Linked DNA regions of Homo sapiens. The protein of the gene in region 1 interacts with the protein of each later gene in a pairwise test. Each region holds a gene or a part of one and is shown in the gene's direction. Other genes may lie near its edges.

Region 1 (7,027 bases):
AATTGGATATGAAATCAGTCTGGTAGCTAATGACCAACAGTTTTTGAAAAATGGAATAAAGCCATCCTGGCTAACACAGTGAAACCTCGTCTCTACTAAAAATACAAAAAAATTAGACGGGCGTGGTGGCGGGGGCCTGTACTCCCAGCTACTCGGGAGGCTGAGGCAGGAGAATGGCATGAACCTGGGAGGCGGAGCTTGCAGTGAGCCGAGATCATGCCACTGCACTCCAGCCTGGGTCACAGAGCAAGACACCATCTCAAAAAAAAAAAAAAGAGATAAAATAGAAGATAGAGCACACATAGTAAGAATGGGTATTTTATGAAACGCTGCTTTCATTTTTCTGTGTATTTACATAAGTGTATTTCTGCTGTGGGTCATGTTCAGAAACATTTAAAAACCTCTTTCTTATCAGACTTTACATTTTGTCAAATGTAGGAAGAAGTTCATCCCCACGTCCAAGGCTTACATAGTTTAAGAGATAGAGTGCTATAGATCATTTTAGAGATCTGGCTTCGAGCCCCAGCATCTCAGCTCACTGCATATAGAAACCTGTCATGTAGTTTTTTTTCTGGCGGGGAGGGGGTCTTAGTTCCCACACCCAATAAATAAGTGCATGCTATTTTTTATTCCAGTGGAAAGTAAAAAGACTACTTAATGAAATATAGTGGTCCCTCCATATCCATGGGGGTTTGGTTCCAAGACCTTCTGAGGATACCAAAATCCAAGGTTGCTCAAGGCCCTTAAATGGTGTCGGATTTGTCTATAACCAACAAACATCTTCCCATATACTTTAAATACTCTCTAGATTACTTATCATAGCTAATGCAATGTAAATGCTATGTAAATAGTTGTTATTCTGTATTTTTAAAATTGGGTTTTTAATTGTTATTTTTATTGGTTTGTGGGGTTTTTTGGTCTGAGTATTTTCCATTCATGGTTGGTTGAATCCACAGATACAGAACCCACAGATATAGGGGCCAACCGTAATATAAATGAAAGCACTTGCAATTCTCAGAGACAAGGAACGATTTTTTCACAGGTGATCTTCAATATCTCTTTATGCTTGTTTTGTCAGGAGAGCTTTTGCAGGAACAGGCATTTAGAAAGCCTTTGCCAGATTCCCCCCATGTACAGCTTCCTCACTTCAGGTAATTGAGTAGTGTCCTGTCTTGTTGACAGAGTGAATGCCTTTGGATTTCTTGCTTAATCAACTCATTGTTTGTCCACAGGTGCTGGCTTATTCTCAGACTCTGTATATTGGGAGAGAAACCGTTAACCTCCCCCAGAAATGTTTGTAGTCATACCTGTGTGATTTGTATATTTTCTCTATTTTTTGGTCTCATTTGTACTTAGACAAAGAGGCAGCTGAACGTCTTTCAAAAACAGTAGATGAAGCATGTCTGTTACTAGCAGAATATAACGGGCGCCTGGCAGCAGAACTGGAGGACCGTCGCCAGCTGGCTCGGATGTTGGTGGAGTATACCCAGAATCAGAAAGATGTTTTGTCGGAGAAGGAGAAAAAACTAGAGGTGAGTGCATTGAAGGCAGACCCAGACTGCCCACGTTTCCCTTCCTGTAGCCCACATTAGGAGGTTTTTATTATGCTTTAATTAACAACATTTTTATCGTTTAAAAATTCATGATGTGAATTCTGAACATCCATCAGATACTGTAATTATTTGAGCCCAGTTAAAAATTGAAGTCATGTTCTTATATGTCCAGGACAGAACAAACTGGATTGTAGGAAACAAACAGTGAACTCTTAATCACAGCCTTAGGATCTTAATATTGCTTTCGTTTGAACTCATGTTTTTAAAAAAATTACGAATTGAGGTACAAAAAGGATAGCAAATCAGTGAAAACCAAAGAATATGTTTGGTAGTATTTGGGAAGTGCTGAAAAATGTTTCTTTCAAGTCATTTGGAGGTTTATTTCTTTTTTTTTTTGAGACGCAGTCTCGCTCCGTCGCCCAGGCTGGAGTGCAGCGGTGCGATCTCGGCTCACTGCAAGCTCTGCCTCCCAGGTTCACGCCATTCTCCTGCCTCAGCCTCCCAAGTAGCTGGAACTACAGGCGTCCACCACCACGCCTGGCTAATTTTTTGTATTTTTAGTAGGGACGGGGTTTCACCATGTTAGCCAGGATAGTCTTGATCTCCTGACCTCATGATCTGCCCACCTCAGCCTCCCAAAGTGCTGGGATTACAGGTGTGAGCCACCGCGCCCAGCCGTTTGGAGGTTTATTTCTGACTTTATCCATGCTGCGGCCAAGAAGTTGTCTGCCTCCAAGATCTATCTGTAATTAGCTCTTAAATGTCACAGTAGTATTTATATAGCACAGTTCTCAAACTGTAAAAGACCTCATTTCTACCCTGGGTTGAGGACATTAGTCTGAGTGACCTTGGGGAGGGAGTTCAGAAACATTTCCTCACCATACACTTGTTTGGCTTCGTAATTAAGTACATGGTAGTTTACCCTCAGTACTTGCTCCCGTGGGATAACAGAGCCAGCAGTGTGGATTTTTGGGAACTTTGCTGCCCCGGGCTGCTGCACTTCCTTTTCAGGAATGTCTGCTCTTCTTTTTTTAAGAGATATGGAAAAGAGTTGCAGCCAGTGGTTTTGTGAAGGAGGACACTTCTGAGTTAGAGAGCCAGTCATGTTGTATTTCAAGAAATACTTCTTAAATCCCACTCAGAGTAGACAAGGGACAGGGAGAGCCATGTCACCTCCATGCTCAGGAAACGTGCTCTGGCACAGAAGGAGGGAACATTGAGCTATCTCTGAGGCTGAGATCATTGTATTTGCCTTTCAGCATGGTCATCTGACTTGAGGGGAAATGAGTGGCAGGCACTTTTTACCGTATCCTTACCTGCAGTGATTCTGGGAACTGTGTTGCGTAGTGGTAGCAGGAACTTCACATTCGTAGCCTGCTTGAATGTGGAAGATGGGAAAGGGCTGTAAAAATCCTACAGCTTAGATTTAGACATCGGCACTGACCAGAGATCCTAAAGGGAGTTTTACAGGCAGTACCAGACGGTCATTTATCTGAAATGCTCATCTTTCACTGAGGAAGCATTTTCAGCACTGTGCCCCGGGACTAATAAGAGAGTGTAATTAATGATTCTGGTTGTAAGTCACCATGCCATCTGTTGAACTGCCCCTTGGCGACACATTAAGGGCTTTCTCTGATCTGTCAGACATTGATTATCATGAGCAGCTGTTGTTGGGTAGAACGTGGCAAGCAACCATAGAGGACAGAGTCTTTGAGGAGATCGGGTTGGTAGAGCTGGTTAACTCTTTGTTCTGTTTTCCCTCCCCACAGTTGCACTCTGCTCTGTATATTGTTGGGGAATCATTCTGGTTTTTGTAGAACTAGTGGTTTGCTGGACGCCACGAGAGGGCATTAAGGTGGAGAAACAGATTAGAGCTTTGGATGCGTTCTGTAACTTTCCAGTCTGCGTTGCTCTGCGCGGTTCATTCAGTGGAATGGGGCTGGCATTCCATTGCTGAAGAAGCGGAACAGAAAGGCCCCACCACTGGAACCAACGTACAGAGTCTGAACTGAAGGTTCTTATCTCAAACCATGTCTCCGAGGCACATGAGCAGAACCATTTATTGTAAAAAATAGAGCCGATTTGCTGCATTAAAGAAAGCAAATGACTAGATACAGTATAAGGTTTTTTTCTGAGATGGAGTCTCGCTCTGTCACTCAGGTTGGAGTGCAGTGACGTGATCTCAGCTCACTGCAGCCTCCACCTCCCAGGCTCAACCAATCCCCCGTCTCAGCCTCCTGAGTAGCTGGGATTATAGATTATAGGCATGTACTACCACGCCCGGCTAATTTTTTTTGTTTTTAGCAGAGACAGAGTTTCACCATATTGGCCAGGCTGGTCTTGAACTCCTGACGTCAAGTGATCTGGCCGCTTCACAATATAAGATTTGAGAGATGGTTTTAGTTCTTTTCTTTATCCACGCTTGCTAAAAATTTAGGCAGTCTGCTCTCCTGAACCTAAGATTTTTCTCTCACATTCTGTAATAGACTGGTCCTGTCCCATCACATCCCTATGGTGGTGGCCGAACTTGATAAATGTATGCCCCTTGAAAGATGCGTGAATACTGTGAATTCCTTCAGATTGTCCAAAAGTCTCTCTGCGTGATGGGGCAGTACATAAAGTTTACCCACTTTTTTAACATTCATTTTTGTAACACAGCCAGTCCGTTTTAAAACTTCCAAATCAGAATGCTAATTAAATATTTTATTTTTTAATCCTTTCATTGCCTTCAGGATATACATAGATGAAATTCTCAGAACTCTTTGGAGAAGTAGTTATTTGCTTGCGAGTCTGTTTTCATCCCAAAGCTCTAATATACTTAGGTTTTGTGCTTTCCTTTTTAACTTTGTATCTTGCTTTATGTAATAAGCATCTTTTTCTCTTTCACTTGGGAATTTTATGTCGGTGGCTCCTGCATGTCAGGATAGGGCGTGTGATGATTCAGAGCCTAGGATGTAGGAGAGGGAATTACGGCTCAAAGTAGGAGATTGTGTTTCTTCCCTCGAGGAAATCATATTCTGGTATAAAAAACACAGGTGAACATAAAACCAAACCACTTGATCGTACATAATGTAGATTAAGGAGGCATTTGGCGGTTCTGATTGTGGTTTAAGGTAAGTCCAAACTTCCTGTCAGGCAATAAAACCTTTTTGTAAAAGGAACTAGCAGTTGAAGAAGAGAAGCATGTTTATAAATGGGGAGCAGTTAGACTGGACCAGACAGGTATCTGAAGAAAGACAAAGTCAGATGTGGGAAGGAGGTGCTGCAGACCACCAGTGGGAGATTAAGGTCTGTGCTCTTTAAGAAGCTACGTATTCATTCAGGGAGTCAGCAAAGCCTGTGCCAGCCAGATGTACAAAGATGGGCACGATGCACTTCTCCCCTCAAAGGGCTTATGCTCTAGTCAGGGGGAAATAGCAGCAAACAAGGGGTTAGGGTAGAATTCAAGATAGGTTGTCAGTAAGGAAAATATTCTCACTTGTGTCTACCTTGAAATAGACCAAGAAAAAAATGAAGATGCTAATAATAATTTGATCAGATGCTTATTAAAATTGTGAGAGTTATCAAATCATGGACAGTTTCTGAAACTGTAATGCCTTCAGCAGGTCTCCCAAAGTTTGCTAGACTGTATACTCTTTGAGTGCTCTCACAGTGCCAGGAACATATTTGTTCCTCAGTAAATACTTGTTCTGTGAAATCCATCACTTGATGTAACCTTTTTCTATAGAGAAAAGGGTTTTTTTTTAAGGTTGCATTAAAAGTGGCTTAACAAATCTGATTTAATGATTGGTTGTAAAGAATATGTTAGTACGGAAAGGTAACCATTTTTAGAAGTTTCTGTAGGTTTTCTCCTTTGTACTACTTTTCTTTTTTCCTTTAAGTAGAATTATGCTTTATTCTGAGATAATCATCTTTTTTTGTTTGTTTGTTTTTGACTTTTGCTTCAGGGTGTCATGATTGACTTTGGCCTATGATGTTGGCCCTTAAACACCAGGCAAGGGTGGAAGGAATGCTGCTGAAAATCTGTGGGTAATGTTTTTGTCATGAACATGAGAAAACCTAGAAATGGAGAAGGCACGTGGAAGGAAGCACAAATGGCAGCCCAAAGAGGAGGTTAGAGAATGTGGAGGGTATAGAAGAAAGCCCATTCAGAAAGGCAAAGGCCAAAGATACCAGAAAAGCCTTCCAGCTTCACTTCCAGAGCAAAGAGAAGCTTTGTTTGTGGTTGACAGAGGTGACTACATTACTCCCAGATGTCTGCTCAAAGCTCATAAGACATAGCGTGAGTGGGTTGGATAGGGTTCCTGTCTTGTCAGCGTGAATAAAGCATGATACAGACATGTTCTGTTAGCATGATCAGTGCATGTGGAAGAGTGTGTGTGTGAGAAAGAAACCTATTTGTACAAGTATTAAGGAAAGAAAAAAGGTCAGGAACCTGCAGTTTTCCCTTCTTAACTGTGATTTTTTTTTTTTTTTTTTTGAGACAGACTCTTGCTCTGTTGCCCAGGGCTAGAGTGCAGTAGAGCAATCTGAGCTCACTGCCTCCCGGGTTCAAGCGATTCTCGTGCCTCAGCCTCCCGAGTAGCTGGGACTACAGGCGCATGCCACCACACCCAGCTAATTTTTGTATTTTTAGTAGAGATGGGGTTTTGCCATGTTGGGCAGGCTGGTCTCGAACTCCTGATCTCAGGTGATCCACCTGCCTTGGCCTCCCAAAGTGTTGGAATTACAGGCATGCGCCTCCATGCCTGGCCTTAACTGTGAATTTTATTCAGATCATGGTGTCTGACTGTCAGCGATCTAGAACTGAAAGCAGATAGTCCTGTGTTGACCCACATGCCACATGGTGCACACACACAAAGATGATATGCCACACAGGGAAGAGCTCTTGAGAAATTTGTTCCAAGCTGCAGATTTATTGTTTTAGTTGAGGTGAAATTCATATAACGTAAATTAACCATGCACTTCAAAGTGCACACATTTTGGTGGCATTTAGTACGTTCACAGTATTGTATCAAGTTCCAAAACATAATTGTGTCTGGCTTCTTTCGGCACGATGTTTTCAAGATTCATCCCATGTTGTAGCATATATCAGTACTTCATCTCTTTTATGGTAGAACACTAATCTGTTGTATGGATGTGACACAGTTTATAACCTGTCTATGGACATTTGAGTTGTTGCCACCTTTTGGCTCTTATGAATAGTGTTGCTATAAACAGTCATGTGGAGGTTTTTGTGTGGCCATATCTTTTCATTTCTCTTGGTTATGTATAAATCTAGGAGTGGAATTGCTGGGTCATATGGTAATTCTATGTAACATTTTGAGGAACCATCAGACTGTTTTCCACAGCAGCTACATCATTTTACATCCCCACTAGCAATGTGCGTGGGTTCCAGTTTCTCCACATCCTCATCAACATTTGTTATTGTCTCTTTATTTTCGACAACCTACATGTGCAGGTTTATCTCATTG
Region 2 (7,027 bases), on another chromosome or scaffold:
CATGAAATATTAACTGATACGGCTGTATTTGTAAAATTATGAAGTAAAAATATTATGTACCTTACATCTTATTTAAAGGGCCAAGAAGAAAGGCTGTGGTGAAACATCAGTGGTACCTCAGTCCTTTTCATTTCTTTAGTTTTTTTCAGAGGTGATTCAATCTTTTGATTTACCTGGTAACTCAACATATAAAGACCTCTGACTATAAAATGTACATCTAGGCCGGGTGCAGTGGATCACGCCTATAATCCCAGCACTTTGGGAGGCTGAGGCTGGTGGATCACCTGAGGTCAGGAGTTCGAGACCAGCCTGATCAACATGGCAAAACCCCATCTCTACTGAAAATACAAAAATTAGCTGGGTGTGGTGGCACATGCCTGTAATCCCAGCTACTTGGAAGACTAAGGCAGGAGAATCACTTGAACCTGGGAGGCGGAGGTTGCGGTGAGCCGAGATAGCGCCATTGCACTACAGCCTGGGCAAGAAGAGCAAAACTCTACCTCAAAAAAAAAATTAAAATAAAATGTACATCTAAAGGAACAAATTGTCAAGCCAAAGAGCTCGTCTTCATTTCAGATATATTATACTTACTAAAATTTTTCTGAGACTTAGATATTAATTTAGTATCTATCTGCTATGCTATGCTATCTGCTATCTGCTATGGGAAATAAGCTAGTCTTTGAAAGTTATCAATGAGCAACTCCCATTGTGAGTTATTTTTAATTTCTGCTACAACTTGTTTCTTCTTTTGCCTGGTGCACGTGACACCATCTTACTCTAATCTGACAATGTCTGCCTCCCTGCCACAATGCTGCATGTGCTGCTGTATTTCCCATTTGGATACTCTCCTGTCAGGAATCAGGACCTGACAGTTGTCTGTGGGACAGTCATATGCATATGAAGGTCAAAGCTGAGTGATCATGGCACCTCTTATTCTCATACATTGAGATTAGCACAAAAATAGCCCTTTAGTGTAACATTTTGTAGTGTGATACATAAAAGAGGTTGCAAGTGAAGCATCTGGAGTTCCTCAAAAATTGCATTGCTGTCATTTGTATATTACCTACAACAGATGTGGAGAGCTTTGAATATCCAGGGCCAAATTGCAACTCTTAATCCTGTTTTGTTTGTTGTTGTTTGTTTTTGTTGTTGTTGGGTTATTTTGGGAGATGGTTGTTGTTTGGTTTTTGGTTTTTTATTTTGTTTTGTTTTGTAGCAACGAAGTAAACGAGGAGGTTGGTCCAAAGGAAGAAAGAGGAAGAAACCTCTTCGAGACAGCAATGCACCCAAATCCCCCCTTACAGGATATGTTCGGTTCATGAATGAGCGTCGAGAACAACTTCGAGCAAAGAGACCAGAAGTCCCATTTCCAGAAATCACAAGGATGTTAGGCAATGAATGGAGTAAACTGCCTCCTGAGGAAAAACAGGTAATTGTTCCTATTCCTGACTCTTTGTTTGGTTTTGATTATATCTCAGAAATAACTTATATAAGAAAAGCAAAGAGGATGGACAGTTGATTCTGCAGTTTTGTCACAGTGCCTAGGAGACCAGAATAGCAGGGTCCATCATAGCAATTTTCTCTAGCCTAGTGATTTTTAAACTATTTGCTAGAGGGGTGTGAGCAGGGAAGGAGTCTAGGACTCCCCTCAACCAAAGCAACACCACTTTTTATACGCTGAGTTCACATAAGATTGTTTTAAGTGGTTCAGTATTAAGAAATCTGTCAATAAAATGTATTCCACTGAGTTAAATGAAAAGTCGTGAATTAAATGAGAAAAAGTCACTTGACACAATTCTGCAGTTCACATAAGATTTTTAAGAAAAAATGTTACTGCTTTAATACTTTTTTTAACTAGAGTTCTGGCAAATTAACCTACTATTGAAAATAAAGCAAGAACAACTTGAATTCTTTCTCCTCTAAGACAGAAACTAACCTGATGGGCAAACTGAAATGAATCCGTTCATTAGAGAGATTTGAAAGGAATTAAGGACAAGATAGCCATGAGCTGGTTGAAGTACCACTAAAGCTGAGCAGTGGTCATGGTTGTGGGAGCTGCTTTGGGTTAAAAGTTCCCAGCATTCCCAGCATCTGAAAGATATCTGTATTTCTTTTACGTCTTAAACTCTTTTATGACTTACACTTTTTAAAAAGGATTCCAGACACACTAAAACCAAATGGAGAAATACTCTCCTGGGAATTAATTGAATTCAGAAATTTTCAAAGAGATCAGATTCAGTTGCAACTTTTGAAGCTCTGTGTTTGTGGTAGCAAGCTAGTAGAAAGCAGTGAATATCATCCATTGTTTTGGCGCTACTGTATAAAAGGATAGTGGGCTGTACATACTATGCTATTCTTTTCTTTTTTTTCTTTATTTTAAAATTAATATGTGCTCATTATTCTCTTTTCAGAGAATACAGAAATGTATAAACAAAAATGTAAAAATAACAGTGCTTATTTCTTGGGATAACCACTATTACGTAGGACAAAGGTTTTGTGTTTGTTTTTGTTTTTTTAACTTTTTTTGGAAATAATTTCAAATACACAAAAAGTTACAAACATAAAAATAATACAAAGAACATCCCAACACTCTTTACCCAGATTCACCTATTGTTAACACATTTTATTCCATTTCTCCATTTGCATATGCACTTATATGCTCAGTCTTTCTTATACTTTTGCATGCTCAGTCTTTCTCTCTCTCTCTCTCTCTCTCTGTCACACACACACACACACACACACACACACTTGCATGTGTACACCCAGACACACACAAAATTTTGTTTTAATCATGTGAGGATAAATTATATACATTGTAGCCCTTTACCCCCAGGATATTTCAGTGTGTATGTCAAAGAATATTTTCTTATATAACCATAGTGTAGTCATCAATTTCATAATTTTTCATTAACAGTGCTTTAATCTGTCATCTATATGTTGACTGAATGTCATTTCTTTATAACATTTTTCCCTTCCAAAACAGGTTCCAGTCTAGGGTCAGGTTTTGTGTTTAGTAGTCAAGTTTCTTTAGCTTAAACTGGGATATTTCCATAATCTTTCTTTTTCTTTTATAACATTGATATTTTTTTAAAATACAGTTCCCTTCTGCTTCCCCCGCTGCTTTTACCTTTAACAGAACATTGCTCATTGTGTATTTTTCAGATGTTTCCTTGTGATTAGATTGAGGTTGCGCATTCTTGGTGGGATTACTTGCATAGGTGGTGGTGTGTTCTCAATATGTCACATATGCAGGCACACAATGTCCTTTTGTTTCTCACTAGTAATGTTAATTTTGCTTACCTGGTACATTATTTAAATTCTCCTTTGTCATTAATAAGTAATCTATGGGGAGACGATTTAAGAACATACAAACAGCCTGTTTTACATCAACATTTTCCCCTAGATTTAGCATCCATTGATTATTTTTGCCTGATTTAATCTTTATCATTATGGTTACAACGTGATGATTTTTCCAACTCCAGCACTCCCTTTACATTTACCAGGTAGCCTTCAGCATTCTAATCTAAGCAAGATCTTGGCTTACTGCAACCTTGACCTCCTGGTCTCAAGCACCCCTCCCACCTTAGCCTCCTAAGTAGCACACACCACCAAAACTGGCTAATTATTTTATGTTTTGTAGAGATGGGATCTCACTTTGTTGCCTAGGCTGGACTCAAACATCTGGGCTCAAGCAGTCCTCCTCTTGCCTTGGCCTCCCAACATCCTGTGATTACAGATATGAGCCACCATGCCCGACCCCCTACCCCCATTTATTTATTTGTTTGTTTGTTTGTTTGTTTGTTTTTTGAGATGGAATCTTGCTCTGTCGCCCAAACTGGAGTGCGGTGGCACACTCTCGGCTCATTGCAACCTCCACCTCCCAGGTTCAAGCGATTCTCTAGCCTCAGCTTCCCAAGTAGCTGGGACTACAGGCGTGCACCATCACACCCAGCTAATTTTTGTATTTTTAGTAGAGATGGGGTTTCAGCATGTTGACCAGTGTGGTCTTGAACTCCTGACCTCAAGTGATCCACCCACCTCGGTCTCCCAAAATGTTGGGATTACGTGCGTGAGCCACCACGCTCAGCCTCTACACCCATTTATTGTATTTGTATGGTAACAAATCATTGGTATTGTGTCTGTTATAAATCATACTAATAATAGTATGAAGTTTTTTCTACTAGTTTATAATTTATTACTGTACTTAATTATTTTGGTGCTTAAATTGTACCAGATTTGGCCAGTTGAGTATCCCCTACATCTGGCTCTTACGCGGGACAAAGTGTTTAACATAATTTCTGAGTGTGTTTTCTGTTCATTTAGAAGCAGTATTTTTATACTTTCTTATACTTCATTTTGATGAATGAAAAGGGCAAAGCATTAAACAAAATAATCCTGGTAGATCAATGAACTTTGTTTAAATAATTAATAGCACAAAGCAATCAAAGCATGTAGATATAGGTTCTCTCAGAGTAGTCCATTTTTAGGTCCATAGGATGAGGTCATTATTTTTATGTTCTTTGTGTCTCCCAGCTTCATTGCTCCAACCTCCTGGCTCTTAAAGGGCCAATTGATGTATGACATCATCCCCTCAAAATGGGCTGGAGACAGCAAAACAAAGTAATATTCTGTTCCTTCCCTTGGGAAGACTAAGTGTGCCTATGTGGTGTGCACATCTCATGAGGATGACTCTAGTGGCCATATAGAGTTCTATCTATAGAGTTAGAAGAATAACTCTAATCATCTTCATGAATTTTTTATAAGAATGATCTCAATAGAACTTGTCTTCATTAGGTTAGAAAAGGCAATAAATATTCTAAAAACTCATAATGACCTATTTACTTTTATAATTGAGAGGTTATATTTTATTCTATTCATACAACTCTTGTTTTTCTGATTCTTTTTTAAGGCATATTCCCTATATTCTTTTCTTCCCATGTTCTAATTGTCCTGTTTTCTTCAAATAGGTAATTTAATTTTATTTAAATAGGATCTCATTTTCTTGAAAATAATTCTGTATTTCTTTCCTAGCGCTACCTTGATGAAGCAGACAGAGATAAGGAGCGTTACATGAAGGAACTGGAACAGTATCAGAAAACAGAGGCCTACAAGGTCTTCAGTAGGAAAACCCAGGACCGTCAGAAAGGCAAATCTCATAGGCAAGGTATCAAAACCAGAACCAAATGTATTTGTAGTTTGTTGTGGGTGATGGAGTGTCATAAAGCCAACTGTTAAGAGTGGTAACTATAAAAGATGTGTTTCTGTTTTTTCTCCACTATCCAGTATTCACTTACAAGCATTATCTTGAAATTTTATTAAAATCACATTGCTCTCATTTAGAAATTTCAACTGGGTTTCCGTGTCTATTATCAATGATTTTGACTTGTCCTCCGAGACCCCTGTTAGTTGCCTGCCCTTCTTTTCCTGATTCCCAGTTTAGGCATTTCTCTGCCTGTAAGCAAGCCTATCTACAAAATTATATCAGTAACTTCCCTTTAACACTTCTAAGCCTTTCATGTGTCATTTTTGAAGCACCATCCACAACTAGCCTATTTTTCCTTAGCCATTGCATCTTCTCTATACTTGGGCATCTAGCCTGCTAAAATTATAGATGTTGTATAAGTAGTCTTTGGTTTGTGTCTTCTGTCCACTCTTCCACCCTTTTCTCCCTAAAGTTAAGAACTGTGTCTGCTGTTTCTCTTATGCCTAATTATGAATTCTGTAGGCATGGGGTTCCCTTACTTTTGTTGGCTGACCGATTAATAAAGCCTTAAGGAAAAATATCATATGTTATGAGAATCTACATATACAAGCAGGTTTTATAGTTTGGCAGAGTCGTATACTTGGGTTTTGTTATTGCTTTCTTTTTAAATGTAATGTTCTCTTATTCTTTTATATTTTTAGATGCAGCCCGGCAGGCCACTCATGATCATGAGGTAATTAGCCATCTGTCTACATATCATATATATGTATTTATAATAATGTTGCTTTTTGAAATGCTATTGGATTTTTTTTTTTTTAATGAATGGCAAAGTATTTCCTATCTCGTAATTCAGATTAAATGAGATACTTTAGCTTGGGGGTTCTTAGCATATGGCAGACACTTACGTTGTGTGTCTGTCATTGAACTACAGCCCCTAACCTCAATCCTTTCCTGTGATCTGAGAATTTTATTGGCTTTAAATGCCAAAGATGGCTGGAATTTGGAATGAAGTATAGAAATGAGGGCTAGCTGAAAGCTATAACATGACCATAGTTTATCATCACCAAATACTTAAATCTGACTCTCAGAAAAGTTGTTATTTAAAGAATCCAGCATTTGCTTAAAGCGAACTGTTCAACTACAATGTCGATAGAGCACAAGCGACAGTATCTCAGGTTTGTTTTTTGTTTTGTTTTGTTTTTTGTTTTTTTGAGATAGAGTCTCACTCTGTCGCCCAGGCTGGAGTGCAGTGGCACAATCTCAGCCCACTGCAACCTCCGCCTCCCGGGTTCAAGCAATTCTCCTGCCTCAGCCTCCCGAGTAGCTGGGACTACAGGCTCGTGCCATCATACCCGGCTAATTTTCTGTATTTTTAGTAGAGACAGGGTTTCATCATATGAGCCAGGATGGTCTCGATCTCCTGACCTCATGATCCACCCGCCTTGGCCTCCCAAAATGCTGGGATTACAGGCGTGAGCCACCACGCCCGGCCCAGTATCTCAGTTCTCACACCTCCTTTCCTATTCCCTCACTTCACTAGCACATGTTTGTGTACTGGCTTCTTTCCTCCCACTTGGTTCAGCCCCATTGTTAGGATTTAGGCCTGTGTTTCTGTGTGTGTATGGGATTTAGGTGTGTGTGTTGTTTCAAATTCTGTTTTCTCCTTCAAACTTTTCTTGTTTCCTCTAACTTCCTTTAACCCTCATGGCTCTCTATACTTGTGTTATGTGCTTAGCTGATCTGACCTAGGGGTTTTGAGGTAATTCAAGGGCTCACACTCTTTGGTTGTAATGTCTTTGTGGACATACACAGTCTAGTTTCCAT
Region 3 (7,027 bases), on another chromosome or scaffold:
TGGAAGGGTGGGAAGGAGAAGTCTGGCTACTTGTATCTTGGCCTGGGGATTTGTTTGGAAGATGAATTATCCTCTGGTAGTTGTGTACAGTTTACAGGTCAGTGATTAGTATGAGTCCGTGAATAGTGCCAGTTAATACTGATTAACTGCTGTACTTTTTGCCAATAAATATTGTAAAGCTATAAAGACAACAGAGTTAATACAAGTTGCTAAAGAGAAACTTGTGGTAAATGTCTTTAAATGTTGTTTAAAATAGAAATGGCCAATCTAGCAGGCATGCTGAGGAAATGATGTTTTTGCAGAAGGGAAATTTAGCAATGACAGTTTTGCAGAATATATTGGTAATGAAGTGTTACTTGTAGCTGCTGACAAATTAGTTTTCTTAAAAAATATATCCCCTAGGAAGACTGTAGTATGAAAGAATGAGAACCGTAATTGGTGGATGAGCCTGGAGAGTTTGAAGGTAAGAGAGAAAGAGAAGCAGCGAGGGAGAGAAGGAGAGAGAGAGAGAGAGAGAGTGAGTGTGTGTGTGTGTGTGTGTGTGTTTCAAGGTAACATGCAAGAACAATAAGGTTCTTCTTGTGTGGTTGTAATTTTTTTTTTTTTTTTTTTGAGACAGGGTCGCACTCTGTCACCCAGGCTAGAGCATAGTGGCATAATTATGGCTCACTACAGCCTCGACCTCTGGGCTGAGGTGATGCTCCCACCTCAGCCTCCTAACTAGCTGCGACTACAGGTGTGCACCACTGTGCCCAGCTAATTTTTGTATTTTTTGTAGAGATAGAGTTTCCTCATGTTGCCCAGCCTGGTCACAATCTCCAGGGCTTAAGCTCTGCCGTCCTTGGCCTCTCAAAGTCCTGGGATTGCAGGCTTCCACCACCGTGCCCGGCCCTTGTGTGGAATTTTTAAAAAATCCTGACTTATCTGTTTGTTTGTTTGTTTGTTTTTTTTTTTTGAGACAGAGTTTTGCTCTTGTTGCCCAGGCTGGAGTGCAATGGCGTGATCTCAGCTTACCACAACCTCTGCCTCTCACGTTCAAAGTGATTCTCCTGCCTCAGCCTCCCAAGTAGCTGGGTTTACAAGCGTGCGCCACCATGCCCAGCTAATTTCGTAATTTTAGTAGAGACAGGGTTTCTCCATTTTGGTCAGGGTGGTATTGAACTCCCAACCTCAGGTGATCCGCCCACCTCAGCCTCCCAAAGTGCTGGGATTACAGGCGTGAGCCACTGCGCCCGGCCTATCCGCACTTTTTTTTATGATTGCTCACATGTGACATGTCTTGTTTTTCTTCTAGGATGTTGAGAAAGAGAAGGAAACCCACAGTTACCTCAGCAAAGAGGAGATCAAAGAGAAAGTTCATAAATACAACTTAGCAGTCACAGACAAGTTGAAGATGACCTTGGTAAGCACTCAAAATACTATTTAGGTTGACACCTGTCAAAAGACAAATATAAATTGTTGGTACTACAATCTATAGTTCTAAATATCTGAATAGCATTTGTAGAAGTGTAGTAGTCAAGGTATACAGAACAGGAAAGTGGAATATTTCTGTGGCTTTCCATTTAAATCTGTATTGTGAAGTAGCTTTGTCTCAAAAATCAGTTGCTGGGTTAACCTTAAAAAAGTGAAACACTTATAATTTTATTTTAAAAGATTTTGTGACCCACCCCTCCCTCCTCAAAGGATTTTTAGCATCATTGCCTAACATACAGAAATGGTGACTCAGATTCTAAGAAGACCTCAGGTAAGGTTTTTTGTTTTGTTTTGTTTTGAAACAAGGTTTTGCTCTGTCACCTGGGCTGGAGAGCAGTGGCACGATCACCGCTCACTGCAGCCTCGACCTCCGGGCTCAAGTAATCCTCCCACCTCAGCCTCCCGAGTAGCTGGGACCACAGGTGCTTGCCACCATGCCCAGCTAATTTTTGTATTTTTTGTAGAGACGGGGTTTTGCCATATCACCCAGGCTCATCTCAAATTCCTTGGCTCAAGGGATCTGCCCAGCTTGGCCTCCCAAAGTGCTGGGATTACAGGTATCAGAAGCCCCTAAGTTTTTGTCTTGTACAAAATAAATATGGAAGTGTCAGGGAAAGGATTTTGAGCCCATGGATTGGAATATAGAGGTATATAATAGGATAGTTTTCTCTGCCGGTCGTTAGTGTAAGACAAGGTACTTAATACTCAGTTTCTTCCACGTCGCTGTCGCAGGCTTCCACAGCATTGTGCCACACTGAAGCATGCAGGGAGTCGGCGTACAGGAGGGAGAAGCCTCAGGGCCTGGGGATAGGGAAACGAGCTGACAGCGGAGCTAGAGTATTCATGTTCCTCTAAACTTAGCTGGCATCTAGGTCTCGCCTACCCATTGGGTGGCCCGCCTTCTTCATGGCACTTGTCAGCCCTTGGCGCCAGTTTCCAGGGCACTTGGATCCCCGTCTCTCAGTCTGTTTACTGTGAACTGACAGAGTTTGGTAAAGGACAAGGTGATTGGTTTAAAACAGGCCCTACCGAATCGGTGATTCTTGGGGAGGAGCTTTCAGATAGAAACCCTTGTGGTAAAGGACCCCTCCCTGGTAGAACTCCTCCAAAAAGAGGGGAGAGGAGCAGAGAATCCCAAGATAACTCTTCATCATTCCAGCAGCAAGATTTCTTTTTCAAACACATTTTTTCATCAAAGGAGAAATCCACTTGCTATGTTTTTTTTTTTTCCTTTCCTGATAGAGACTAAAACAGATACAAATTATCCATGTCATTTTAAAGATAAAAATTTTAGGCTGGGCACAGTGGCTCACACCTGTAATCTCAGCATTTTGGGAGGCTGAGGCGGGTGGATCACTTGAAGTCAAGAGTTCGACGGTGGCTCACGCCTGTAATCCAGCACTTTGGGAGGCCGAGGTGGGCAGATCACGAGGTCAGGAGATCGAGACCATCCTGGCTAACACAGTGAAACCCTGTCTCTACTAAAAATACAAAAATTAGCCAGGCGTGGTGGCGGGCGCCTGTAGTCCCAGCTACGCGGGAGGCTGAGGCAGAAGAATGGCGTGAACCCAGGAGGCAGAGCTTGCAGTGAGGCAAGATCGTGCCACTGCACTCCAGCCTAGGCGACAGAGCAAGACTCCATCTCAAAAAAAAGAGTTCAAGGCCAGCCTAGTCAACATGGCAAAACCCCATCTCTCCTAAAAATAGAAAAATTAGCCAGGCATGGTGGCGGGTGCCTGCAGTCCCAGCTACTCAGGAGGCTGAGGCAGGAGGATCACTTGAACTCAGGAAGTTGAGGCTGCAGTGAGCTGTGTTCGTGCCACTGCACTCCAGCCTGGGTGAGAGAGTGAGACCCTGTCTCAAAAAAGAACAAACTAGAGAATTAGGATTGAAAATTGATCTTGTGGGAAGGAAGAAAAATAACACACCATAAAGATAGTTTTAAATGTTCTACTTTAACTGTGGCATTTATATGTAACACTTGACAGTTTAATAAAACAGTACAATAAATCTTTTCTAAATATACTGTTTTTGTTTGTTTTTGAGATGCAGTCTCTGTCGCCCAGGCTGAAGTGTAATGGCGTAATCTCGTAATCTCGGCTCACTGCAACCTCCACCTCTGGGTTCAAGAGATTCTCCTGCCTCAGCCTCCCGAGTAGCTGGGATTATAGGCACCTGCCACCACACCCAGCTAATTTTTTTTTATTTTTATTTTTAGTAGAGACGGGATTTCACCCTGTTGGCCAGGCTGGTCTCGAACTCCTGACCTCCAGTGGTCTGCTCGCCTCGGCCTCCCAAAGTGCTGAGATTACAGACATGAGCCACTGCGCCTGGCCCCAAATATACTGAATACAAAAATAAAAATAAAAAGTGAAGACCAAACTGTTATTACTGTTTTTGGCAACTAAGAAATAGTAATTCTACCATCAGTGAAGGTAGTTGTTTTTAAGATCTGTACTGTGAAGTATAGTGGTTTGAATTTGTTTTTTTTTGTTTTGTTTTGTTTTTGTTTTTTGTTTTTTTTTTTGAGACAGAATCTTGCTCTGTCGCCCAGGCTGGAGTGCAATGGCGTGATCTTGGCTCATTGCAACCTCCACCTTCTGGTTTCAAGCGATTGAATTTTTTTTTAAAATGCTGCTTAAGAGACCCGAAATGCATTCTATGCTGTATGGCATATATGCTGCATTAAAAAGTTTAAGCAGAGTTAGTAATTCAGTGCATATGAATATAGCCACTAGGAATGAAAATAGCCTGTTTTCTTACTGTCCCCTTGTTGTTGACTTCAGTATTTCAGAGCCCTAATTGTGACCTTCCTTTTGTGTATAATAGTCACCAGTTGAGGATGTTGTTTCCTTTGAGCCTGTAGCCTAGACATATCCCCCAAGCTTTAATAAGTTTTGTGGTTTGGCTAGCATCTGCTCCGTTGGATTGTAACCTCGCAAATGGACCCTGACCTTTTGCCAGTAGCTTCAGAGGCATGAGTCTGGGGCCGGCAGTCAGCCACAGCATCAGGAGGCTTCTTCAGTGTCCACATCTGCCCTGCAGACCTTGCCTCTGGAAGCACTTTGCCTGGTGTGTTAACCGCCCTCTGAGGTCATTCCTTTGGGGGCAATCTTTAGTGAAGTTCTGCCACAAACCTCAAGAGAAGAGAACAAAGGAGTGTTTCACCTTCCCGTTTTGTTTTGATATGCTTCTTCCCTAAAGTGCCACCATCCACCCAGCTAAGTGTGTGCTTCTCTCCCTGCTTCAGAATTCAAATGGGATTTACACTGGCTTCATTAAAGTACAGATGGAACTCTGCAAACCTCCACAGACTTCTCCAAATTCTGGAAAACTCTCTCCCAGTAGCAATGGCTGTATGAATACACTTCATATCAGCAGCACAAACACTGTCGGGGAAGTGATCGAGGCCCTGCTCAAAAAGTTTCTCGTGACTGAGAGCCCTGCCAAGTTTGCACTTTATAAGCGTTGTCACAGGGAAGACCAAGGTACGCTGCCAGCTTAAAAGGAAAATGGTCTGTGCTTCTACTTGCATCTGCTGTTCTCATTAGCAGAGGGAAGACTGGTGGGTCTCATCCATGTCAGTTGTGTCAGAGCCTGGAGTCCGATGCTGGAAGCCATGGTGATCTTAGCATGCACTTAGTGCTTCCTGGCTGTCCATATTTTTGAGTTGGACAGTTGAGGGTCTGAGGAGCTTGGAAGCATCCATATGTGATTGGCAGTTACGAGTATTTTGTGGTGTTGGTGGGGGGATGGGGCGGGGGCTGTTTTTGGTGGTTGTTAGGAGTGGCTTTGATTTTAGTTTTCTTTAGGACACAAAAGAGTGCCTCTGTGTTTGAAGTTTTCAATAGCACATTCCACATTTGATGTGCATCAGTACGTGGAGTGGTTTGGTGGATGTGTGCTGAGATCTTGCGACTGGGGAGGCACATGTGCATCACAGCACATTTCAGCGTACTGATGGAAACGGCCCAGCCCTGGGCTCTCCTGTTGCCTTAGCTTGTCTCACTTGGTGTTACGCCGGGACATTTTGGTACTCTGTCCCCCAGAGGCTCATCAAATGAGTGAATAACATTTTGATCTAGGGTCTGACTAAAACTTCATATCCACATTCAGGGGATAGAAAGAGAACATTAAATATTAAATTACTGCGTGAAACAGAATGAGATATTCCAGGTCAGGCAGTGACCAGAAATTGATAACATTGGTGGACAGTAGTGATTCAGTGACTCACTACATGCGATTTGAAATCGGGGTGTGTGTGTGTGTGTGTGTGTGTGTACAATAAACTATTTAAGCTTTCTTTGGTTTTTCTCGGTAAAGCCTAATGTAGCTATAGAAGAAAATATATTAACCTTGACATGATAGTAATGTTCTTCAGTTACACAGGATGAAACCCAGCTCATTGCTGAGTATGCATACATCTTTTTAAAAACAAACCATGGGGCTAGACCCTGTGGAATACAAAGATGAACAGGCCAGGGTTCCTACCTTCAGAGGTCACAAGCTTAGTATTGTGGGGGCTTATATCTATAGGGAAATTGGCACCTGCGATGCAGTGCATCTGGAAGTGCCACAATAATGTAGAGAAGCTCGATGGCATTTTTATCTGCCAGTTTCTTTGCCTGCTCACCTGGACTTTAGCTGTACAATCTGAAAGTAATCGTGACTTGTTGAAATATTACCCCCATGGCTGGCAAATCCTTTAACATGATTGGCAATGTCACTGTATGTGTGTGTCTAGCATGAGACATATATAGCTGTGCTTGAAGCTACCGGAGCTTATATTCTGATTGCTTGGTTTGTAGCTGCTAATTCGCTAATTCTTTTTTTTTTTTTGAGACGGAGTCTCGTTCTGTCACCCAGGCTGGAGGTGCAGTGGCGCAATCTTGGCTCACTGCAAGCTCCACCTCCCGGGTTCACGCCATTCTCCTGCCTCAGCCTCCCGAGTAGCTGGGACTTACAGGCGCCCGCCACCACGTCTGGCTAATTTTTTTGTGTTTTTAGTAGAGACGGGATTTCACTGTGTTAGCTAGGATGGTCTCGATCTCCTGACCTTGTGATCCGCCCGCCTCAGCCTCCCAAAGTGCTGGGATTGCAGGTGTGAGCCACCGCGCCTGGCCTCGCTAATTCTTAATTAATCTGTAGAGAGATTTGCTTTTAGAACTCTTGTTTTTATGTTCTTTGGATGGTATATACATTTTTTTTTAAATTTGTTTTTTGTTTGTTTGTTTGAGACGGAGTCTTGCTCTGTTGCCCAGGCTGGTGTGCAGTGGCACAATCTCGGCTCACTGCAACCTCCGCCTCCTGGGTTCCAGTGATTCTCCTGCCTCAGCCTCCCAAGTAGCTACAATTACAAGTGCCCACCACCATGCCCAGCTAACTTTTGTATTTTTAGTAGAGACAGAGTTTCACCATGTTGGTGGCCAGGCTGGTCTCAAACTCCTGACCCCAGGCAATCTGCCTGTCTCGGCCTCCCAAAGTGCTGGGATTACAGGTATGAGCCACCACGCCTGGCCTTGGTTTTTGAGACAGCGTCTTACTCTGTCACCTA
Region 4 (7,027 bases), on another chromosome or scaffold:
TGGGGGAAGGTACAGCAGCTTAGGAGAGTAGTCACCGGGATGCATGTCTGTGGAGGAGCGAACTCATTTCTCTTGAGCAGTGCAGCAGCTGCCTGGCACAAGGACAGAATTCCAGCTGGGGGAGCCTTCGCATGAAGAGGCTGTCTCCTTGATTAAAAAGTCAGATTCTGAGGCTGAGTGTGGTGTCTCACACCTGTAATCCCAGCACTTTGGGAGGCCAAGGCAGGTGGATCACTTGAGGTCAGGAGTTTGAGACCCGCCTGGCCAACATGGTGAAACCCTGTCTCTACTAAAAATACAAAAATTAGCCAGGTGTGGTGGTGCATGCCTGTAGTTCCAGCTACTCGGGAGGCTGAGGCAGGAGAATCGCTTGAACCCAGGAGGTGGAGGTTGCAGTGAGCCAAGATTACGCCATTGCACTCCAGCCTGGGCAACAGAGCAAGACTCCGTCTCAAAAAAAAAAAAAAAAGTCAGATTCTGGAGGCAGACTACTTTGGTTCAAAGTTTTGGCTCCATCCTAATTGGATATGTGATCTTGGGCAAGTTTTTAAAACTTGATGCACCTGAGTTTCTGCATCTGTGTATGAGGATGGCAGCAGTGCTGGCCTCCCGTGTTAGAAGGGTCACGTGAGTCGATGTGTGCGAGGCGCCCGGAGCAGTATCTCACAGTCAGCTCTCCACGTGTCACTCCTCTGCTGCTGCCTTCGTGGAACCTGAGAGTTGGCATACCTGATGGCCATTTCTTACCTGTAGGTCAAGCCGTGCTAACACTGTTACCCCAGCCGTGGGCCGATTGGAGGTGTCCATGGTCAAACCAACTCCAGGCCTGACACCCAGGTTTGACTCAAGGTGAGTATCGAGGGAAACACTTGGATTTGATGGGACTCCAACATTGAGCACTACCCAGAGAAGGAGTGTCTAAGAAAATACTCCTAGGCCAGGCACGGTAGCTCACGCCTGTAATACCAGCACTTTGAGAGGCCGAGGCAGGCGGATCACTTGAGGTCAGGAGTTCAAGACCAGCCTGGCCAAGATGATGAAACGCTGCGTCTACTAAAAATACAAAAATTAGTTGGGTGTGGTGGTGCACGCCTGTAATCCCAGCTACTCAGGAGGCTGAGACAGGAGAATTGCTTGAACCCAGGAGGTGGAGGTTGCAGTGAGCTGCAATTGCACCACTGCACTCCAGCCTGGGCAACAGAGTGAGACTCTGTCTTAAGAAAAGAAAAGAAAATAGTCCCGAGTCCTTGGCCTGGGATGCCTTGTCAGAGGACAGTGGCCAGCTGGGTTTCCTGGTGTATGCCTCTCCCTTAAGTGTAGTTTCACCTATCTTCAGTGGCAAAATGATTCTTTAATGGGAGGGAGGTGAATATTCTGCCTGTGATGACTAGGAGGCCTCTAGGTGACGTTTTTGGCCTTTTCTGATTCAAATCAGAAGGTTTTTATTTTATTTTTAAAATATTTATTTATTATGAGGCAGGGTCTCACTCCAATGCCCAGGCTGGAGAGCAGTGGCACAATCACGGCTCACTGCAACCTTGACTTCCCGGGCTCAAGTGCTTCTCCCACCTTAGCTCCCAAGCATGCCACCATGCCTGGCTAATTTTTTGTTTTTTTGTAGCGATGGGATTTCGCCAGGTTGCCCAGGCTGGTCTCGAACTCCTGAGCTCAAGCAATCTGCCCACCTCGGCCTTCCAATGTACTGGGATTACAAGCATGAGCCATCACACCCGGCCTCAAATCAGTTTTTTAAAGATGAGTAGGCACTCTCCTGTACTCTTGGTAGAAGTAAAAATTGATACTGCTTTTTTGGAGGCTGGCATAAGCGAGGATATTCTTGCAGCATAAGTTAATACCTTCCAAAGAACCTAGTTGACCAAATAGGAGATGCTGTATAGCCATTAAAAAAGACTGGATCTGTGTGTGCTGACAGGGAAAGAGCACCGTGATCACAGAGCATCTCCGAGCAGGTTGCTGAACACTGTGCTGTATGATCCCATTTGGTTTTATATACATACAAAGTTTCTGGAAGGATAGATAAGGAATTCAGAGTGGTTACCCCTGGGGAGGAGAGCAAGAAGTGGTTATCTCTGGTGTGGGGAAGTGTTGAAGATTTATTTTCTACTTTTAATTGCCACTTTTTTTTTTTTTTTTTTTTTTTTTTTTTGAGACGGAGTCTCGCTCTGTCACCCAGGCTGGAGTGCAATGGCACAATCTCGGCTCACTGCAACCTCCACCTCTCAGGTTCAAGCAATTCTCCTGCCTCAGCCTCCTGAGTAGCTGAGATTATAGGTACATGCCACCATGCCCAGCTAAGTTTTGTATTTTTAATAGAGACAGGATTTTGCCATGTTGGCCAGGCTGGTCTCGAACTCCTGACCTCAGGTGATCCACCCCCCTCGGCCTCCCAAAGTGCTGGGATTACAGGTATGAGCCACGGCACTCAGCCAGTTCCCACTTTTCTTTACTGTTTGTTTTCTCACATGAATATGTAACAAAAGGCATTTAGGGAAAACTAGGTAGCAGTATTTTAACTGTCTTGAGAAATTAGTATAATGATGTAATATCTAAATCATCCTCCTTTGCCTCTGAAAAATTCCTCTTGATGGAAGCAGCCACGCCTGGAAACAATTAACCAGCGTATTTCTGGCTTTGTGGATGGATGGATGATGGCACCCATATGGAGCTTTGGACCTAAACTTTATGTGGATAAGAGTTGGCTTTTTGTAAGATGTATGTTCAATAATTACAACCTTCTTTCTCCAGCTGTGTTTAGTCATTACTGCTTTAAAACATTTTTTTTTTCTAAATTTAGAACGTGCTTTCTTAGGAATGTATGACTTAAAAACTGCAACTTGAGGCCAGAGTAAGGTTAAAATGGCCTATAGAGTTTGGTGTCATCCAATTGCCAAGCTATCTTCACAGAGATTTTCCCATTCTAGGGTCTTCAAGACCCCTGGCCTGCGTACTCCAGCAGCAGGAGAGCGGATTTACAACATCTCAGGGAATGGCAGCCCTCTTGCTGACAGCAAAGAGATCTTCCTCACTGTGCCAGTGGGCGGCGGAGAGGTGAAGTATTTCCAAGGGAAGCCAGGCCACAGTGTGCTGCTTAGTCAAGCATTTCTTTTCCCTGGGCCCTCACCCACGCTTCACCCTCAGAGTCCTTTCAGTGCGTGGGTCCTGATCTCCACACTTCTGCGGGACTCAGAACCCAGTTTTCTCTCCCAGGTTAGAGGCCCAGACTGCAAAGATCGTTGCTCAGCTCTGGGTTCTGTTTTTCTGTTTTTTGGTTTTGTTTTTGTTTTTTGTGGGTTTTTTTTTTTTTTTTTTGAGATGGAGTCTTGCTCTGTCACCAGGCGGGAGTGCAGTGGTGCGATCTCGGCTCACTGCAACCTCTGCCTCCTGGGTTCAAGCGATTCTCTTGCCTCAGCCTCCTGAGTAGCTGGGACTACAGGCACACGCCATCATGCCCAGCTAACTTTTGTATTTTTGGTAGAGATGGGGGTTTCACCACGTTGGCCAGGATGGTCTCGATTGCTTGACCTCGTGATCCGCCCTCCTCGGCGTCCCAAAGTGCTGGGATTACAGGCATGAGCCACCGTGCCCACCTTTTTTTTTTTTTTTTTTGAGATGGAGTCTCACTCTGTCGCCCAGCCTGGAGTGCAGTGGCACGATCTCAGCTCACTGCAACCTCTGCCTCCCAGGTTCAAGTGATTCTCCTGCCTCAGCCTCCTGAGTAACTGGGACTACAGGCACATGCCACCACACCCGGCTAATTTTTGTATTTTTAGTAGAGATGGTGTTTCACCATATTGGTCAAGCTGGTCTCAAACTCCTGACCTCAGGTGATCCACACACCTCAGCCTCCCAAGGTGCTGGGATTACAGGTGCAAGCCACCACACCCGGCCTCCATCTGTTCATCAACTAACATTTGCCCATCCGATTGTAGTAGGCCCAAGAAGTAGACATGGGGCCTGCCCTTAGAAAGCAGCTCAGTGGTCAAGATGGGTTTGCAATCATGGTACCTGTGATATGCGCAATAATAGAGATGTTAAAGGGTGGTGCAGAGGAGGGCACCACCGAGGTATGCGCTTAGTCTAGAACCCGGACCATGAGCTGTGCCTTCAGCTTTGTATAACTTAAGGGATTCTGAAGCAAGCTGAGCTCAGTGTCTCTGGGCTGCATGGAGCGAGTTGCTGACCTCAGCCCCTGTGAGGGGAGGACGGTTTGTTTCAGACATACTCTGCAGGGCATTTCTTAGATGATGTGCGTGCCTTTTGTGCCCAGGTAATCCAGCCTCCACCCTAGTGATAGTGCTGATGAAGTCATTGTCTCCTTAGAGCTAATATCCTTCCTGCCTGTCTTGCCACTTCTCCATCCCAGCCATTCCCCACCACTAAGTGCAGGATATCAGGGGAACCTAGGGGTTCCGGCCCTAAGGGCCATGGCCAGTTTAACCCACTCCCCTTTCTATTCAGAGCCTGCGATTATTGGCCAGTGACTTGCAGAGGCACAGTATTGCCCAGCTGGATCCAGAGGCCTTGGGAAACATTAAGAAGCTCTCCGTAAGTCTCATATTCATCTCCACACATAGGATGCCTCCAGTAGCTTTCTTGGGCTACCTTTATTTAGGATTGTCTTTTGGGCCTGGGCTAATACTTTCTACTTAAATTTGTGTTGTCTTCCTTCCCCCAAGAGATTTTGACTCTTACCCTACTTAGATAGCAGCAGTTCTGTTCCTCAGTTGATGTTGAGTTTTGTTCAATCCCAGGGTGCCTGCCACAGAAGTTCCACTGCAAAATCAAAATTCTGCCTCATTCAGGCAGTTAGTGCTAGGGGTATGTTAGGTCACTATTGGCCACCAGAAAGTGAAACCTAGAGTAGCTCAAGAATGAGGGTCGGGGCTTGTTATCAGGAATCTTACAGAATCAAAGAGCGAGCTGAACGGCCAAGCCTCTGGAGTGGTGGGGCCCATCAGCTGGGGCCTGTGTGCTCATTTCTCTCACACATCTTCATTCCTCCCTCAGCAGATAACCTTCTCCACAGGCTCCAGGTTCTGTGCTTACTTAACATTGTTTTGCATGTGGCTTTGAGTAACCACACCTCCAATCCCAACTTTATTGCTCTATTGCCCAATTGTTCAATTTCTTGTCTTGGTTTAAATTCTGAAGAGGGCCAGGCACAGTGGCACACACCTGTAATCCCTGCAGCTCAGGAGGCTCAGGTGAGAGAAATTGTTTGAGCCCATGAGTTCAAGGCTGCAGTGACCCATGATCGTGCTGCTGCACTCCAGCCTGGGTGACAGAGAAAGACCTCAGCTCTAAAAATAAAGTAAATTATCAATTTAATTTAACTGAAGAATGTAATGGCTCCGCCAGGGATGAACCTCCTTGGTCTGGTCAGCCATCATCTTGGGTGGTGGATGAAGCACTTAGTGTAAACATGGCAACCTTACCCTCATCCTTCTGTGGGGTCTGAAGGGTACATCCAAGGAAGGGGACAAGGCGGGGCTGGTTTCCTAAACCTGTCTTTCTGAACATAGGCCCAGTGCTGAGATCCCACACACACCTAGCCACCCAAATCTTGTGACTGTCATCCTCTAGCTAGATCTATTGCAATGTTCTTCTCAAATCTATGATACCTTTACTGTCTCACTTGAGTTGTTATTTTACTCCCTTGTTCAGATGAGAAACAGGTTCAGAAAGGTGAATTCATGTGTGATACAGATAGAGAATGGAGGGGCTCAGGCTGACTGTGGGAGGCCAAGGGGCAAGCCTGCCAAGTGACATCTTCTACAATGACCTCTCTCCTTTTCTTTTTAGAACCGTCTCGCCCAAATCTGCAGCAGCATACGGACCCACAAATGAGACACCAAAGTTGACAGGATGGACTTTTAATGGGCACTTCTGGGACCCTGAAGAGACTTCTTCCCTTCAGGCTTATTGTTTGAGTGTGAAGTTCCAGAGCAAGGAGCCATGTTCCTCTAAGGGAATTCAGGAATTCAGACGTGCTAGTCCCACACCAGTTAGGTAGAGCTGTCTGTTCACCCTCCCATCCCAGCTGATCCCAGTCACTGCTTGCTGGGGCCATGCCATGGAAGCTTCCCATCAGTCTCCCAGCTGAATCCTCCCTGCTCTCTGAGCTGCTGCCTTTTGCCTCCTGCAACTCAACATCCTCTTCACCCTGCCCTGCCTGCAGTTGAGGGGGCGAAGAAGAACCCTGTGTTCTCAGGAAGACTGCCTCCACCACCGCTACCCAGAGAACCTCTGCATCTGGCATTTCTGCTCTCTATGCTTGAGACCGGGAGGTTTAGGCTCAGATAAGTGAGCTCTGGGCCATGAGAGGGTAGGTCCAGAAGGTGGGGGGAACTGTACAGATCAGCAGAGCAGGACAGTTGGCAGCAGTGACCTCAGTAGGGAACATGTCCGTCTACCCTCTCGCACTCATGACACCTCCCCCTACCAGCCCTCCTCTTCCTCCTCCTCCTCCTCCTGTGGGAGGTGGTCAGTGGGACTTAGGGATCTTTCACCTGCTGTGCCCAGTAGTTCTGAAGTCTGCTTGTGGAGCAGTGTTTTATGTTTATCCCTGTTTACTGAAGACCAAATACTGGTTTGGAGACAACTTCCATGTCTTGCTCTTCTACCTCCCTAGTTAGTGGAAATTTGGATAAGGGAACTGTAGGGCCCAGATTCTGGAGGTTTTATGTCATTGGCCACAGAATAACTGTCTCTAAGCTATCCATGGTCCAGTGGTCCCTGCCAAGTCTGTAGACTTCAGAGAGCACTTCTCTCTTATGGGGTTCATGGGAACAGGGGTGGGTGTGACTTGCTTGGTGGCCTCATTCCATGTGTGCCTGTGCCTGGGGCATGGACTTTGTTAAGCAGAGTCAGCAGTGAGGTCCTCATTCTCCAGCCAGCCTCTCTGCCCTGGAGAATCATGTGCTATGTTCTAAGAATTTGAGAACTAGAGTCCTCATCCCCAGGCTTGAAGGCACATGGCTTTCTCATGTAGGGCTCTCTGTGGTAT

Evidence for each region.
Region 2: the proteins of RPRD1B (region 1) and HMG20A interact in binary tests that used the Homo sapiens proteins (3 or more experiments, as listed by UniProt).
Region 3: the proteins of RPRD1B (region 1) and RASSF3 interact in binary tests that used the Homo sapiens proteins (3 or more experiments, as listed by UniProt).
Region 4: the proteins of RPRD1B (region 1) and CDCA8 interact in binary tests that used the Homo sapiens proteins (3 or more experiments, as listed by UniProt).

Annotation. Positions count from the first base shown.
Region 1 is NC_000020.11:38,064,725-38,071,751, forward strand, and holds part of RPRD1B (regulation of nuclear pre-mRNA domain-containing protein 1B), read left to right. Parts: intron 1-1,356; coding exon 1,357-1,532; intron 1,533-7,027. UniProt on the Homo sapiens protein: Interacts with phosphorylated C-terminal heptapeptide repeat domain (CTD) of the largest RNA polymerase II subunit POLR2A, and participates in dephosphorylation of the CTD by RPAP2. Transcriptional regulator which enhances expression of CCND1.
Region 2 is NC_000015.10:77,465,879-77,472,905, forward strand, and holds part of HMG20A (high mobility group protein 20A), read left to right. Parts: intron 1-1,216; coding exon 1,217-1,429; intron 1,430-5,031; coding exon 5,032-5,164; intron 5,165-5,904; coding exon 5,905-5,936; intron 5,937-7,027. UniProt on the Homo sapiens protein: Plays a role in neuronal differentiation as chromatin-associated protein. Acts as inhibitor of HMG20B. Overcomes the repressive effects of the neuronal silencer REST and induces the activation of neuronal-specific genes.
Region 3 is NC_000012.12:64,683,493-64,690,519, forward strand, and holds part of RASSF3 (ras association domain-containing protein 3), read left to right. Parts: intron 1-1,294; coding exon 1,295-1,402; intron 1,403-4,723; coding exon 4,724-4,961; intron 4,962-7,027.
Region 4 is NC_000001.11:37,702,499-37,709,525, forward strand, and holds part of CDCA8 (borealin), read left to right. Parts: intron 1-753; coding exon 754-849; intron 850-2,942; coding exon 2,943-3,069; intron 3,070-4,479; coding exon 4,480-4,566; intron 4,567-5,823; coding exon 5,824-5,868; 3' UTR 5,869-7,027.